Linked DNA regions of Homo sapiens: region 2 is linked to region 1. Evidence: fine-mapped expression QTL. Tissue or cell type: whole blood. Region 1 holds a variant in brackets; the other region holds the start of a gene. All regions are shown on one strand. Distances are between the middles of the regions.

The links. PIP is the estimated chance that this variant, and not a neighbour inherited with it, causes the effect.
Region 2: CD44 starts here. The variant in region 1 is fine-mapped to the expression of CD44 in whole blood (GTEx, PIP above 0.99).

The regions. Positions count from the first base shown.
Region 1 is chr11:35,223,156-35,231,418 of GRCh38, forward strand. It overlaps CD44 (CD44 molecule (IN blood group)), which reads left to right. Exons shown (of 18, transcript NM_000610.4): 18 at 5,974-8,263. The coding sequence ends at 6,178. Among named protein-coding and RNA genes, the nearest start is that of CD44-AS1, 12 kb to the left of the region's middle. The variant A/G (reference allele first, on the strand shown) is at 4,968.
Region 2 is chr11:35,134,486-35,142,485 of GRCh38, forward strand. It overlaps CD44 (CD44 molecule (IN blood group)), which reads left to right and starts at 4,686. Exons shown (of 18, transcript NM_000610.4): 1 at 4,686-4,885. The coding sequence starts at 4,819. CD44-DT (CD44 divergent transcript) reads right to left here and starts at 3,547. Exons shown (of 3, transcript NR_120528.1): 1 at 3,213-3,547; 2 at 1,861-2,141. RefSeq lists enhancers at 3,851-4,415, 5,583-6,083 and a silencer at 4,326-4,395.

The sequences.
Region 1 (8,263 bases):
GAGAGAAAAAATCTAAAAGGCCGCCTATGATTGAATGGAAAGATTTTTTTTAGTTGAATTTAAATAATGTGACTTGGGGGAGCCTTTACAAAGAGTCTTTATACCTCCCTTCAGCTTCCTCATTTTCCCTTGGATTACTTTTGCTCAATTAAATATGAATTTCCTATTGTGTGCAATCAGCCCTTTATTGCCAAGCCCTAGAATGCACCACTTTTGCTCACATACACAGTCCATAAGCTTTGCACATGTCACCATAGAAACGCTGGCATGGATGCTGTCGACATTTAGGGAGACCTCGGAGAAGCATCTCAGCTGTCCCTAAGAGCAGCTGGAGTCCATACATTGGGGCTGGGTATCTCCCCCATCGTCTGTGTCTTGTCAGCAGCAGACAGCAGAGAAGGGGCCTCATTGCTGCCCTCTCCCTCCTCCCAAGACCAGCAGTCACCCTGGCAACCGGCAAACAGGGACACACAGGGTCCGGCACAGCGAGTATCTCACCAGGAAAGTAGCTGCTTGGATGCCATAAATTACTATGTCCTGATTTGATAATTGAAAACAGATTTGCCACGCAGCTAAAAGGTGGTGAACAGCTGTACGGGCCCCTTAATGGGCTCTGTGATTCTAAAGCTGTCAACCCATTTCTAATCCCCTTCAAAGGCTGAGGCTTTTCTGCTTTGAGTGTCACATTTAAGAGAAAGAGATACAGAATCCTATTTTCATCAGAGAAAGTTTGGTTGAAAATGGGGCCTCCAATAGGTGTTCATTTATTCAGCAAACATCTTTTGAGTGGCTCCTGTGACTACCAGCCCTGGCAAGGAGAAAGAGAAGGTAAAAAACAAAAAGAGTACCACCCCTTTTCTAAAAGAATCTTGAGGTTTAGTGGCAGTATTGGCCTCTTGAATTTGAATTGGCTAATATTTATTGAGAACATTCCCTGTGCCAGACACTGTTATATAAATTATGGTTAAAAGACAAAAGTGGAAAATCATTAGTCTCTGAAGTTGACATACAAGGATGGGTCATGGGCTTGCATGATGAAGTGATCTGTGAGTCACGTTGTCTTAAAGATGCTGGGTTGGGGGTTCTATTACTTCTTTAGGTTTTTCCACCCCTGCCATCATCCAAAACAGCTTTCTTTGCTGTTCCTCATGTCACCTGACTCCTTGAGTTACAGCTCTCCAAGAGAAATCATATTTTATTCCCTTTTCATGAGAGCACATAATTATTTTAGGAGTCAGTTGGGTTGATAGATACTGCGTGAGGCTCCAGAGAAGATTTTCCTTTAAAGAATCTATCTGGGCCAGGTGCAGTGGCTCACTCCATGTGCAGTGGCTCACTTTGGGAGGCCGAGGCAGTGGATTAGTTGAGCCTAGGAGTTCAAGACCAGCCTGGGCAACATGGCGAAACCCCATCTCTACAAAAAACACAAAAATTAGCCGGGCATAGTGGCGCATGCCTGTGGTCTCAGCTGCTCGGGAGGTTGAGGTAGAAGAATCGCTTGAGCCCCGGGAGGTGGAGGCAGCAGTGAGCCATGATAGTGCCACTACAGCCTGGGCAACAGAGTGAGACCCTGTCTCAAACAAACAAGCAAACAAACAAACAAACAAAAACCTATCTTATTTGTCTAAAGAGGAGAAAAAAACATGAGAACTTTACTATGTTGCTTGTACATAAAAGCTGTTCATCAGCCTTCACTTTAATGGGAATAATCGTCTTTTCTATAAACCCCAGCAGGCAGTCACCCACACTCCAATCAGTAGGTCTTCTCTACGCATCGCCATAATTTAGAAATATTTTCCTTCTCTTATGCTACAGTCTAGCTCCTGCAATCTGAGCTCACCCAACCTCGTCCTGCTGTCTAGAACAGTGCTATGCAATAGAACTTTCTGTGATGATGGAAATATTCTATACCTCCACTGTCCAATATATAACTACTAGCCACAACTGAGCACTTGAACTATGGCTAGTTCAACTGAGGAAGTGAATTTTTAATTTCATTTCATTGTAATTAGTTTAAATTCAAATAGCCAAATGTGGCTGGTGGCTACCATATTGGATGGCACAGCTCTAAAACAGTGCAAAATAAATCCCTAAATATCGTTAAGGATTGTCAGGTAGAAGAGTCATGAGATCAGTTGCCAAGTTACCCACCTAAATCTTTTAAGATAAATTCTGCCATGCCATAAAAGTATGTTACCTGGCTTCTAAACCCCAGCCAGCCTGCCCTCTCTTTCCTGGTGAGGTCTCAGTCTGCCTCCTTCCACACTGTGTGATTGCTGTGTGCTCAGCTAATGCCTGAGATTTAAGGGAAGAGGAGATAAAGGTAAGACACAGATCCATGAGGATCTCTGATCTTCAGAGTCAGAAGATCCAAGCTGTGGCTGGGCGCGGGGGCTCACACCTGTAATCCCAGCACTTTGGGAGGCTGAGGCAGGCAGATCATTTGAGGTCAGGAGTTTGAGACCAGCGTGGCCAACATGGAGAAACCCTACCTCTACTAAAAACACAAAAATTAGCCAGGTGTGGTGGCGGGTGCCTGTAATCCCAGCTACTTGGGTGGCTGAGGCAGGAGAATTTCTTGAACCCAGGAGGCAGAGGTTGCAGTGAGCCGAGATAGTGCCATTGCACCCCAGCCTGGTTGATGAAGTGAGACTTTGTAAAAAACAAAACAAAACAAACAAACAAACAAACAAACAAAAACAGAAAATCCAAGCTGTGATTCTTGCAGTGCAGTGCCATAACAAGCTGTGAAACTTTGGACAATACTTCTTGGACTTGGTGTCCAGTTTACATAATGAAGAAGCTGGGCTAGATGATCTCTGAAGCCCCTTAAGGTCTAGTGCTCCTTCTTAAATTCTTATAACTAGGAATAACTTAAAAATTAGAATTTGTCTCTTAAAAGCACTTATTAGACGCCTAGAGCACTGAATATTGGAATGAGTTATTTATGAGAATCATCCTACCCTCCTGAAACTACTCAGACAGATAGAAACACATAAATCCAAAGGGAAATGCAGGCCAACCAAAAACCAAGCACAATATTCCTGTGTCCTATAGGTCAAATGTTATCCACTGTCAAGATCAGCTTCGTTTAGATTAACAACATTAATCCCCACCCACTCCCATGCACAGACATATTTTTTATGCTCATAAATCACTTTCCCACAATATTTCATTCCATCCCTCAACCACCCATTGGTTAGGGAAATGGGAATTACTTTAACTAGACAACTTTCCTCCAAAGAACACAGGGGCCAGGGAATTGGAAGTAACACAAGCAGTATTCTACCTTGAGCCTTTTAAATCCTCTTCATAGTAAATAATAACGAGGTAGGTGGAGGCAGCCAGGAGAAACAAGCAAAATTCATTTCATATGGCTTTTGTTATATTAACAATTATAGATAGCACTTGAAAGCTTACTGTGCTCCAGATACTGTTCTAAGTGTTAACCCAAACCTTAGTTTCCTTACCCCGCATAAGAGCAAGAATAACAATTATTTCCTTACCCCTCATAAGAGCAAGAATAATAACAATAGACTCATTTATTTAGTGACAGTCTCTGTTTCAAGGGCTTTTCACAATCCTATGATATTGCTACTCTTAGTAACCTGGTATTATTGATGCAAAACTGAGGCTCAGAGAGGTTAAGTGAGTTGCCCCAGGTCACATAGCAGTAAGTTCTCAAAACCAGGCCTTCCGAGCCCCTTTTCTTCTTTCTTTTTTCCTTTTTTTTTTTTTTTTTTTTTTGAGACGGAGTCTTACTGTGTCACCCAGGCTGGAGTGCGGTGATGCAATCTCAGCTTACTGCAACCTCCACCTCCCAGGTTCAAGCAATTCTCCTGCTTCAGTCTCCTGAGTAGTTGGGATTCAGCCACGCACCACCATGCCCCCATGACCGGCTAATTTTTGTATTTTTGGTAGAGATGGGGTTTCACCATGTTGGCCAGCTGGTCTCGAACTCCTGACCTCAAGTGATCCTTCTGCCTCAGCCTCCCAAGTGTTGGGATTACAGGCATGAGCCATTGTGCCTGGTCTCTTTTTCTTTTTTGAAACAGGGTCTCACTCTGTCACCCAGGCTGGAATGCAGTGGCACAAACACAGCTCACTGCAGCCTCGACTTCCTGGGCTCAAGTAATTCTCCCACCTCAGCCCCCAAAGTAACTAAGACTACAGGCACATGCCACCACAGCCGGCTTATCTTTGTATTTTGAATACAGACTGGGTTTTACCATGTTGCCCAGGCTGGTCACAATCTCCTGGGCTCAAGTGATCCACCCGCCTTGGCCTCCCAAAGTGCTGGGATTACAGGAGTGAACCACTGCACCTGGCCTCCAAGGCCCTTTTCTTGACCATGCATCCTGCTGGACTCCATCTGTATTCCTGGTCCCCATGAATCTGTTTCACAGTTCAAGCATCCTTCCCCCAACCCCTCATCAAGCCTTATGCTAGAGGAGACAGGATCTACCTCCTGTTGAGGAGGTATAATTTTTATTTCCCCAAACAAGAGCTTAAAGTTTATGGCCTTGGCAGTCCTACAGGGAATGGTCCATGATCATGAATAATAGAGGCTTTGTCACTATTACTCCAAATATCCAGAGGCAAAGTGAACAATTCTGACTTCATACTGTTTCCAAATCTCCAGAGGGCTGGCAGCATTGACAGAGCCAGGCAGAGCCCAGGCTTTGGTCATAAAGGCCTGGATTTGAATATTGGCTCTGTCATTCTTACTTTCTGTGTGACCTCGAGCAAGTTATTAAACCTCTTTTGGCCTCAGTTTCCATTGCTGTATTATGGGAACAATAGCTGCTTTGAAAGAGTGTTGTAAGAATTACAGAAAATTACATGTAAAATGTCTGGTATTCAGGAGGTAATCTGCTTCCCTGAATCCCCATCTTGCTTGTAGTTGTGAAGCTATGCAACTTTCCTTCCTCTAAGCATAGTCTGACTCGTATATGTGTAGTAGTGAT[A/G]TGTTACAGGAAAGAGGAAGCATTGCATTAGGCTGGGTGGGGTGAAGCAATGGACAGTAACCAGGGAAAAGATCAAGGTCGTACTCTTCCATAGCAACTTTCTTTTGCGTTTGGGTCTTAAGTAATGTTTGAGAAACCTTAAATTAACGAGAATAATTTGTCTTATGTTATTAAACTTCCTATATCAGGGTTGTATGAGTTAGCCAATGTTAGGAAAACATCACTATGGCCTTATACCTCTAGAAAAATGTTGTTTTATTCTTCTCGATACATTCAGTAATAATGCTGACAAGGCCGACAAAGTGTTGACTGGGAGAGGAAGTTATGGGACTTTCTGGAATATACAAATCAGAATGATTTACAATCATCATGTTGATGGTTTATCTAAATCTGCAGAAACTGCTAAAATGCTTAAAAGAGGCAAACATTTCCATTGTGAAGTAAGATAGAAAGAGAATCAGAACTTGAGAGTCAGACAGACCAGGGTTTGAATCCTCTTTCTTACTTGCTGAGTTACTTGGGGGAAGTTACTGAATTTTCTGATCCCCAAGGTTTCTTCACTTGGAATATAGAGAATATAATAATAACACCGGCTTCCTGGAGTCTTAGTTGCTGGTTTGCAAACTTGACTGTGCAGAGAAGCCCCTGAGGGGTTGCAAATTTGACTGTGCAGAGAAGCCACAGATCCTGGGCTCCAACTCTAGAGTTTTCTGATTCAGCAGGTTTGGGGTGGGGCTGAGAATTTGTATTTCTAACAGGTTCCAAGATGATGCTTTTGCTGCTGGTCCAGGGACCTCACTTTGAGGAGTGCTGGTTGTTATGAGTCTGGTTGTTAAGTGCTGGTTGTTAGTTGTTAAAGTAGAGAAAACCCCTAGCACAGTGCTTGGCACACACTAAAGCCATCATAAACCATAGTGATCATCAATGATGGTGCTCAGTAAGGATGATGATCTGATGCCTGAGTCACTGCAATCTTTCTGATATGGTACATTTTTTAAATTATTAGGTGTGGGCAGAAGAAAAAGCTAGTGATCAACAGTGGCAATGGAGCTGTGGAGGACAGAAAGCCAAGTGGACTCAACGGAGAGGCCAGCAAGTCTCAGGAAATGGTGCATTTGGTGAACAAGGAGTCGTCAGAAACTCCAGACCAGTTTATGACAGCTGATGAGACAAGGAACCTGCAGAATGTGGACATGAAGATTGGGGTGTAACACCTACACCATTATCTTGGAAAGAAACAACCGTTGGAAACATAACCATTACAGGGAGCTGGGACACTTAACAGATGCAATGTGCTACTGATTGTTTCATTGCGAATCTTTTTTAGCATAAAATTTTCTACTCTTTTTGTTTTTTGTGTTTTGTTCTTTAAAGTCAGGTCCAATTTGTAAAAACAGCATTGCTTTCTGAAATTAGGGCCCAATTAATAATCAGCAAGAATTTGATCGTTCCAGTTCCCACTTGGAGGCCTTTCATCCCTCGGGTGTGCTATGGATGGCTTCTAACAAAAACTACACATATGTATTCCTGATCGCCAACCTTTCCCCCACCAGCTAAGGACATTTCCCAGGGTTAATAGGGCCTGGTCCCTGGGAGGAAATTTGAATGGGTCCATTTTGCCCTTCCATAGCCTAATCCCTGGGCATTGCTTTCCACTGAGGTTGGGGGTTGGGGTGTACTAGTTACACATCTTCAACAGACCCCCTCTAGAAATTTTTCAGATGCTTCTGGGAGACACCCAAAGGGTGAAGCTATTTATCTGTAGTAAACTATTTATCTGTGTTTTTGAAATATTAAACCCTGGATCAGTCCTTTGATCAGTATAATTTTTTAAAGTTACTTTGTCAGAGGCACAAAAGGGTTTAAACTGATTCATAATAAATATCTGTACTTCTTCGATCTTCACCTTTTGTGCTGTGATTCTTCAGTTTCTAAACCAGCACTGTCTGGGTCCCTACAATGTATCAGGAAGAGCTGAGAATGGTAAGGAGACTCTTCTAAGTCTTCATCTCAGAGACCCTGAGTTCCCACTCAGACCCACTCAGCCAAATCTCATGGAAGACCAAGGAGGGCAGCACTGTTTTTGTTTTTTGTTTTTTGTTTTTTTTTTTTGACACTGTCCAAAGGTTTTCCATCCTGTCCTGGAATCAGAGTTGGAAGCTGAGGAGCTTCAGCCTCTTTTATGGTTTAATGGCCACCTGTTCTCTCCTGTGAAAGGCTTTGCAAAGTCACATTAAGTTTGCATGACCTGTTATCCCTGGGGCCCTATTTCATAGAGGCTGGCCCTATTAGTGATTTCCAAAAACAATATGGAAGTGCCTTTTGATGTCTTACAATAAGAGAAGAAGCCAATGGAAATGAAAGAGATTGGCAAAGGGGAAGGATGATGCCATGTAGATCCTGTTTGACATTTTTATGGCTGTATTTGTAAACTTAAACACACCAGTGTCTGTTCTTGATGCAGTTGCTATTTAGGATGAGTTAAGTGCCTGGGGAGTCCCTCAAAAGGTTAAAGGGATTCCCATCATTGGAATCTTATCACCAGATAGGCAAGTTTATGACCAAACAAGAGAGTACTGGCTTTATCCTCTAACCTCATATTTTCTCCCACTTGGCAAGTCCTTTGTGGCATTTATTCATCAGTCAGGGTGTCCGATTGGTCCTAGAACTTCCAAAGGCTGCTTGTCATAGAAGCCATTGCATCTATAAAGCAACGGCTCCTGTTAAATGGTATCTCCTTTCTGAGGCTCCTACTAAAAGTCATTTGTTACCTAAACTTATGTGCTTAACAGGCAATGCTTCTCAGACCACAAAGCAGAAAGAAGAAGAAAAGCTCCTGACTAAATCAGGGCTGGGCTTAGACAGAGTTGATCTGTAGAATATCTTTAAAGGAGAGATGTCAACTTTCTGCACTATTCCCAGCCTCTGCTCCTCCCTGTCTACCCTCTCCCCTCCCTCTCTCCCTCCACTTCACCCCACAATCTTGAAAAACTTCCTTTCTCTTCTGTGAACATCATTGGCCAGATCCATTTTCAGTGGTCTGGATTTCTTTTTATTTTCTTTTCAACTTGAAAGAAACTGGACATTAGGCCACTATGTGTTGTTACTGCCACTAGTGTTCAAGTGCCTCTTGTTTTCCCAGAGATTTCCTGGGTCTGCCAGAGGCCCAGACAGGCTCACTCAAGCTCTTTAACTGAAAAGCAACAAGCCACTCCAGGACAAGGTTCAAAATGGTTACAACAGCCTCTACCTGTCGCCCCAGGGAGAAAGGGGTAGTGATACAAGTCTCATAGCCA
Region 2 (8,000 bases), 89 kb before region 1:
TAATCCTAAAGGCTCAGCTCTATAATCACATTTGGTTAGCTTGAGACTAATCCTTAGAGGTTATTTATTTTTCATGAAGATTGCTTCCCAGCTACTGGTTTATTTAGACTTTACTAATAATTATTTCGCAAGAGCTTTTTTCACCACTGCTCATTTATATGTGTAGAATTCACACTGTGAATATGAACTAAGGATGAATTTTTTTAAGAGTTAAGGTTTAACTGGAATGTCATTTTTTCTTTACTGTGCCAGATCATTCCTTTTCTGGGAAGCTGTCCCGTGAAATAATTAAATATTGTCCCTTTAAAAGAGTCTGTGACCTGCTGCATTTGTAATCCTTGAATTCCATGATTCAGCCCAAGATCTCCCAGCTTTCCATTTCACACTCCTGCTCACATTTGGTTTAGATTTGGCTTTTCTTTGCTCGAGAGGAACAGGATTTATTACTACCAGTCAGAAGCCATCAGTCCCCAATATTTCAGCAAAGAACCCTAGTCTGCCAGAGTGAGTAATGCTCTGTTTGCACTCAAGTCTCCCTGAACCAGTCACCCCAAATAGGATGTCACTGCTTGCATTTATTTAGAAACTGTCAAGTTGTCTATGTGTTTCCTCCCACCAGTTCATGTGATTCCTGAAACACCCCTATGCGCTTTGATGGGAGGGAAAAAAAATAACAGTCCCTCATACATTTATGTAATGCTTATTTATGGAGCACAGTGTATATGTTAGGGACTGAGAGCTGAGTATGTGCTGGCACCCCAGAAGGACATGTCCCTGTTCTCAGGTAGCTTAGAGGTCATTGAGTCCCACCATGAGGCAGGCACACCAGGAAATGGTCTTGATGTCTTCTTTCACTGACTACTCATAATAAACTATGGGAAAGGTCTGATTACCCTTGTTTTGTGGCTGGGATTACCGAAACTCCCAGAGGTTAAGTCATCCTCTGATAAGGGGGAAAGCCAATGCTCAGACCTGGACTTTCTCGGTCCAAGGCTGCTGATTGAATTCTGGATTCTTCCCAAATAGTGTAATCTCGTGTCAACTCAAATCAATTCAAGTTTCCTTTCCAGTTTCCCACATCCCATGGTTTGGCTTAGAAAGAAAGATGGTGCAACACACAACAGATATCAAGCATCTAAGAGTTTGGGAAGGGTTTGTGTGACCAGTGGTGTGGGCAGGGTGTCTTTAGAATGGAAAGTGGATGAGAGGGGAGCTCAAAGAGGTGATCCAGGAATTCCCAAAGGTGGACCTTGACTCAGTAAGTCACCAGGTCTGTTATTTGAAATGAGTCATTTGTGGTATGGGGGCAAATGACCTCAGTCCCTCACCAAACTATCGGGAAGCAAGCAAACAAAATAATCCCCGCTTCTGGGGAGAATAATCCTAATTACAGCCCCTAGAATTTGCATGCCCTTCTACAGTTTGCAAAGCACTTTCACACCTATATTTTCCTTGGTGGAATTGTTTACTGCACTAATGGAGAAGGGACCAGGACTTGATATGGCCTAGTTTGTTGGTTTTTATATATTTTTTAAGAATAATCATCTGTCAAAATGTAATTTCATGCAATAGTCTGGTATATAAAACTGATGCAAGTGGAACTTCTGTGGTTGGGATGGGGCCTGGGGAGGGAGAGGCACAGCTTACTCCTCAGCTTTTACTCTGACCACTAGGTCTGCTTCTGAGGGGTCTCTAAGGAACCTCCAGGTTCCATGAAACACAGTAAGACAGACATTGTTCCTAGTGACTCCCCACGTCACTTCACTTTCTTGCTCCAAGAAAAGGAAGCTGAAATCCCTGGAGGTTGCATGAGGTGAAAAAAGCTGCTCCTTGTCCTGTATTCTTGTGCATGGAACCTACCAGGGCTGGTTTCCTCACATGAGTAGGGACTGAAGCCTTATCTGGGAGCCAGTTTGCCCCCAGTTGTTTCAAGAAATAAAGTGTCCTCTTGGTCACAGACAGCAGCAGTAACAACTTTTTCCTGCGGACTGGCAGCATTTTCCAAGCACCTGCTCTTCAGGTGGGAGTTACGGGTCACTGTCTTCATTCCAGACGGGCGGCTCTTTGAGTCATGGCATGCCAGCTTCTGAGTGGCTGAGGACTAGATCCAGACAAGGATTTTTCAGTCCCAAACACTCTTCCTGAAAATGCAAGAGGAGTAGTCTTTAGTCAAACAGAATCTCCACAACTGAAAAATTTATACCGGACTAGACAGTGGTAGTGGTTGCACAATATTGTTAAAGTACTACACGTCACTGCTATAAACACTTTTAAATGGGTGAAATGGTAAATTTTATGTTATGCATATTTTAACATAACAATGATAATAATTTTAACTAAGTACGTTGCCTCCTTATTTCCTACAGGGTCAAGTTCAAACTCCCTGGCATAGCTTACACCTTGTAGTCCCCATACCTGTAACCTCATGTCTGCTATCTTCCCCCAGCCCCTTCATCTGATCTATGTTCAGATCAGCTCACATTGCTCTCTATTCTCTGGACAAGCCATGTTCTTTCACTTTTCTATGCTCAAACACAATTTTGCTTTTAGTAATGATAGCAAACACTTATTTAAAGTGCTTACTGCATGCATATGTAGACATAAATCTACGGCTTAATACATGCAGGGCTTTTGAGTCATTTAATCCTCACCAATTCTATGAAGTAATAGAATTGTAATAGTAATAATAGATACTATTATTAAGCCCATTTTATACTTGAGCAAATTGAGCTAATTGCCTTAGGCAAGGTCACACAACTAAGAAGCAGCCATAATAGGGTTTGGATCTAGGTGTTCTAGCTCCTGAATCCATGCTGTTCGTCACTACACTGTACTGCCTGTGGATGACTTACTTGTCCCTGTAGTTTCATCTGAAGAATTCCTCCTCCTTTTCCTTTGAGGCCTGCCTCAAATATCACTTCCCCTGTGAAGACTGCCTGGTGTTCTCCAGGAGAGAGTGTGACTCCCTTCTCTAGGAATGGTAGCACCCCAAACACACACATTTTGCAGCATATTTCACCTTGCATGGTAATGGCCTGCTTGTGAGTTTTATTCCGTACCAGAGGGTGAGGGCTCTGAAGATAGCGCCAGGTCTTATTTACCTCGATACCCCACAACACTCATTACATGTCTGATGAATGAATGCATAGGGGGATGGCTGGGTGCATTTCTCTCAACTTTTCAATTTCTTGAAATAAATAACAAAATCTTACCTTCCCTCAGAAGTCCTGGCATGGTTCCTTTCATCTTGCCACAGCCACTGATAATCACTTTCATTTTCTGTGTAACTCACCAGGCAAGAAGTCCATGCAGATTTACTTTTAGTAGTTCACATGACAAATAAATACTGCGTTTGATTTCCAAACATTAAACCATAGTATATTATAGATAGATATAGAGTTATCATTCAAAGTATGATATTTCAATCTCAAAAGGCTTCCCCTGAAGAATATTACAAACTCTTCCTCTCTTTAAGATCTGCTGGGTAGGAAAGATGGGAGAAAATGAATTAATGTTTACACAGAAAGGAGGATAATGGGGGCAAAAATAATAGATGAACGTATGGGTGGATGAGAGAATGGATAAAATGATAGGTGGATATGTTGATCTTGGACAGATGGGAAATGAGTGGATATATCAATAAACAGATATGTGGGTGGATGGGTGGAGAAGAGGATGGTGGATGGTTGTGGTTTTATGAAGAGATGTGAAAAAGGAAGTGTGGAATGATGGATGAGAAGTTGTATGGGAAGATGAATAGAAGAATAGGTGGTTGAATAAATTAAAAGGTGTGTGGTTGGATGAATGAATGAGTGGGATGATAGATGGACCTAAGTGGTTAGTGGATGGACAGGAGGATGGATGGATGTGAGAGCCCCAGAAGGACATAAGGAAAGATGGGTGGATAGATGGATGGGCGGATGGAAGGATATTTAGGAGGATGAATGAGCATGTGTGTGGAGAGAGGTGCCCATTCACACTGGCTTGAACACATGGGTTAGCTGAGCCAAATGCCAGCCCTATGACAGGCCATCAGTAGCTTTCCCTGAGCTGTTCTGCCAAGAAGCTAAAATTCATTCAAGCCATGTGGACTTGTTATTGAGGGGAAAAAGAATGAGCTCTCCCTCTTTCCACTTGGAAGATTCACCAACTCCCCACCCCTCACTCCCCACTGTGGGCACGGAGGCACTGCGCCACCCAGGGCAAGACCTCGCCCTCTCTCCAGCTCCTCTCCCAGGATATCCAACATCCTGTGAAACCCAGAGATCTTGCTCCAGCCGGATTCAGAGAAATTTAGCGGGAAAGGAGAGGCCAAAGGCTGAACCCAATGGTGCAAGGTTTTACGGTTCGGTCATCCTCTGTCCTGACGCCGCGGGGCCAGCGGGAGAAGAAAGCCAGTGCGTCTCTGGGCGCAGGGGCCAGTGGGGCTCGGAGGCACAGGCACCCCGCGACACTCCAGGTTCCCCGACCCACGTCCCTGGCAGCCCCGATTATTTACAGCCTCAGCAGAGCACGGGGCGGGGGCAGAGGGGCCCGCCCGGGAGGGCTGCTACTTCTTAAAACCTCTGCGGGCTGCTTAGTCACAGCCCCCCTTGCTTGGGTGTGTCCTTCGCTCGCTCCCTCCCTCCGTCTTAGGTCACTGTTTTCAACCTCGAATAAAAACTGCAGCCAACTTCCGAGGCAGCCTCATTGCCCAGCGGACCCCAGCCTCTGCCAGGTTCGGTCCGCCATCCTCGTCCCGTCCTCCGCCGGCCCCTGCCCCGCGCCCAGGGATCCTCCAGCTCCTTTCGCCCGCGCCCTCCGTTCGCTCCGGACACCATGGACAAGTTTTGGTGGCACGCAGCCTGGGGACTCTGCCTCGTGCCGCTGAGCCTGGCGCAGATCGGTGAGTGCCCGCCGCAGCCTGGGCAGCAAGATGGGTGCGGGGTGCTCAGCGCGGACCCGGCGGCAGCCCCTCCGGCTGAGTCGGCCCTGGGGGACTGGAGTCAAGTGAGCTGTCTGCGAAGTGCATTGGGCTCCGGAAAGCAGGGCTGGGATTTGCGCTAAACCGTTGGAGAATGTGTCTGTGGAAGCACCATTTGGTTGAAAGAAAAAGAGAAAGAGAAGAAAGTTTGTTGGGCAGGCTGCCGGCGCGCAGTTTTGGGCGAGGTCGCTAGAGCTGCAGCACATGGCAGAAAGTAACCGTTCTCCCGGATGCGCACAGTCGTTGTCTGGACTAACAGGCTCCTGTGCCCAAGGGCTCGCCAAGCCCCACCGGGCTGTGTCTAGGCAGGGCAGAGCTGGGCGGGGCAGAGACTGGGGCTGGAACAGGGCGAGTGGCTGTTATCAAGGTGGTCACAGAAGGGATCACAATTCCAAGTGTGAGACTAGCTGGCAATGGGTTTTCCAGAAAGGGGTCCTGGGTTCTCCCAGCTCCCCACTGAGCCTTGTTCCAAAGCTTACAGTCCGCAGTGTCACTGCCACCTTAGCGCTGTGGAAGCTTGAACCAGCTCTGCGGTGAGGTCTTGGGTCTCCATGAGATTCCAGCCTGGGATAGGGAGCATGAATATGAGAGGCAACCACTGGACCAGCTGCTTGGTCCTCACCACCTCCTGCTTCTGCCAATCAGTGTGGGGAAATCTCAACAGTAAGGTGGCTTATATTCCCTGCCTGGCAGCCTCAGAGCAGAGAGAAGAGCCTTGATACCAGGGCAACATCAGGGACCCTGGAGCTAGGGCTCCAATATCTCATCCAAACAGGGTCAGTGCTTTGTGGTGGCTATGGAGGGGAGGGGCTGCGTGTAAGGTATATTCTAGCACGGCTCAACTCCAAGCATTCTCTTTCTTTGTCTATGTATGTACAGATAATTACATGGCCGATTTGCTTATCGCTGGCCAAAATTAATCTTTCTTTTAAGAAGTGCCAGCTGGGTCATTAAGACAGCTCAGCCTGCATGCAGTAAATTCTACTCAGCAAATATTTATTAACCCAGTTCCACGGGAGTACTGAGAAATTGAAACACACAGTCTCACCCAGGTAGTTTAGATTGAGTACCCAGTATAAAGTATCTTGAATTACTTTCTGCTTTCTCTATCTTCCTACTTTCTGCAGTAGGAAGAAAGTGACCCTAGGTGGAGGCTAGGCAGGATGAGTTCTCTGTGCATATGCATCTCCCTTTCTGTGTGAGTGAGAGGTCTTTGCTAGGTGGGGATTTGGGGATCTAGGATTTATACTACTGAAGCTGAAATAATAATAATAATGATAGCAACAACACAGCCTGTCATGGTGGCCCATGCCTGTAATCCTAGGACTTTGGGAGGCTGAGGCAGCAAATTACCCAAGGTCAGGAGTTTGAGACCAGCCTTGGCCAACATGGTGAAACCCCATCTTTACAAAAAATACAAAAATTAGCAGGGTGTGGTGGTGCACACCTGTAGTCCCAGCTGCTTGGGACGCTGAGGCAGGAGAATTGCTTGAACCTAGGAGGTGAAGGTTGCAGTGAACCAAGATTATGCCATTGCACTCCAGCCTGGGTGACAAAGCGTGACTCTGTTAAAAAAAAAAAAATGAATACAGTGCTAGCTACCATTTACTGTATATTTTCACTGTGCCAGGCATTATGTTAAATATTTTCCATGTGTTATCTCATTCTACCCTCACAATGGCCTAGTAAGAAGCTTCCTGTTATCAGGCCTGTTTGACAGGAGGAAAACTGATGCTTAGAGACGTTAAGTGACTTGCTGGCATTCACATAGCCAGGAGCAGTGCTGGATGGAAACCCAGCTCCACTGAGCTCCAAAGCCTAGGCTTAGAATATGTTAGACTGTATAAGATGGACGAACTTGGAAGGATTTCAGGGAGGGAAGGATTTTGGTGGACTCTAGGCCTTAGGGAAAGTTCCAAAAGGGACTGGAGCTCAAATAAGCCCTTGAAAAGTGGAAACATTCAGGATGGGAGAGAAGAGTCAAGCTGGAGATCAGGGAGAGCCCTGGGCCTGGCCTGAAAGAAGAGGGCCCTGGTGGTTTCCCTATAGTCTCTAGGGAAGTTTATTTGTATGTTACCTACCAGTGCCATCTTCTGCTTTGTCTTTGGGCATTCTGACTCCTGACTCCTTCCAACCTGTCTCCCCGTTCCTTCTAAAAGGCCCCACTTCCAAATATTTGGCACTGTCCTAACCCTTGAGGTTCTCCCAGAGACCCGCAGTCTCCCTCCTGCCCCGTGTTTCCACGGCCCCTTTGCGCAGCATCATTTAGAGGAAGTACAATGAAGTGCCAGTAGCAATAACTGCCCCGGCCCTCGCTTTCATGTGCTTGTAAAGTTGTTTGGCAGGAACTGGGACTTGGAAAGGAGACATGACTTTGTCAGAGGGCTTGGGGCTGGGCATGGTGTGGGTGGCGAAGGGGAGAAGGAGGAAAGGGGAAGGAAAGGAGCTCTTGTTGCCCCATTCTGGGGAGTGGTGGACTCTGGACAACCACGAGGAAACTTTGGAAAGGAGCAAGGCTTTGAGGAGGAGTCCAGTCTTTGTATGGGAAAGCAAAAAGTGGAGAAATGGCCAAATGTAGTTAAGTGACATTGGACCCAGAAACTCTGAGTTGGGGAACAGATATCTTGAATTCGGGGTCTTGTGCAGGAGGAAGAAAGTGGCCCTTGGTGGAGGCCAGGGGGGATGAGTCCTTCATGCACATGCATCTCCTTGTCTCTGTGGGTGAGGGGATCTTTTTTTTTAATTATTATTATACTTTAAGTTTTAGGGTTCAACCATTGTGGAAGTCAGTGTGGCGATTCCTCAGGGATCTAGAACTAGAAATACCATTTGACCCAGCCATCCCATTACTGGGTATATACCCAAAGGACTACAAATCATGCTGCTATAAAGACACATGCACATGTATGTTTATTGTGGCATTATTCACAATAGCAAAGACTTGGAACCAACCCAAATGTCCAACAATGATAGACTGGGTGAGGGGATCTTTGCTTGGGAATTGCATGCCTGGTGTTGAGAAAGAGGAGAGCGTCTG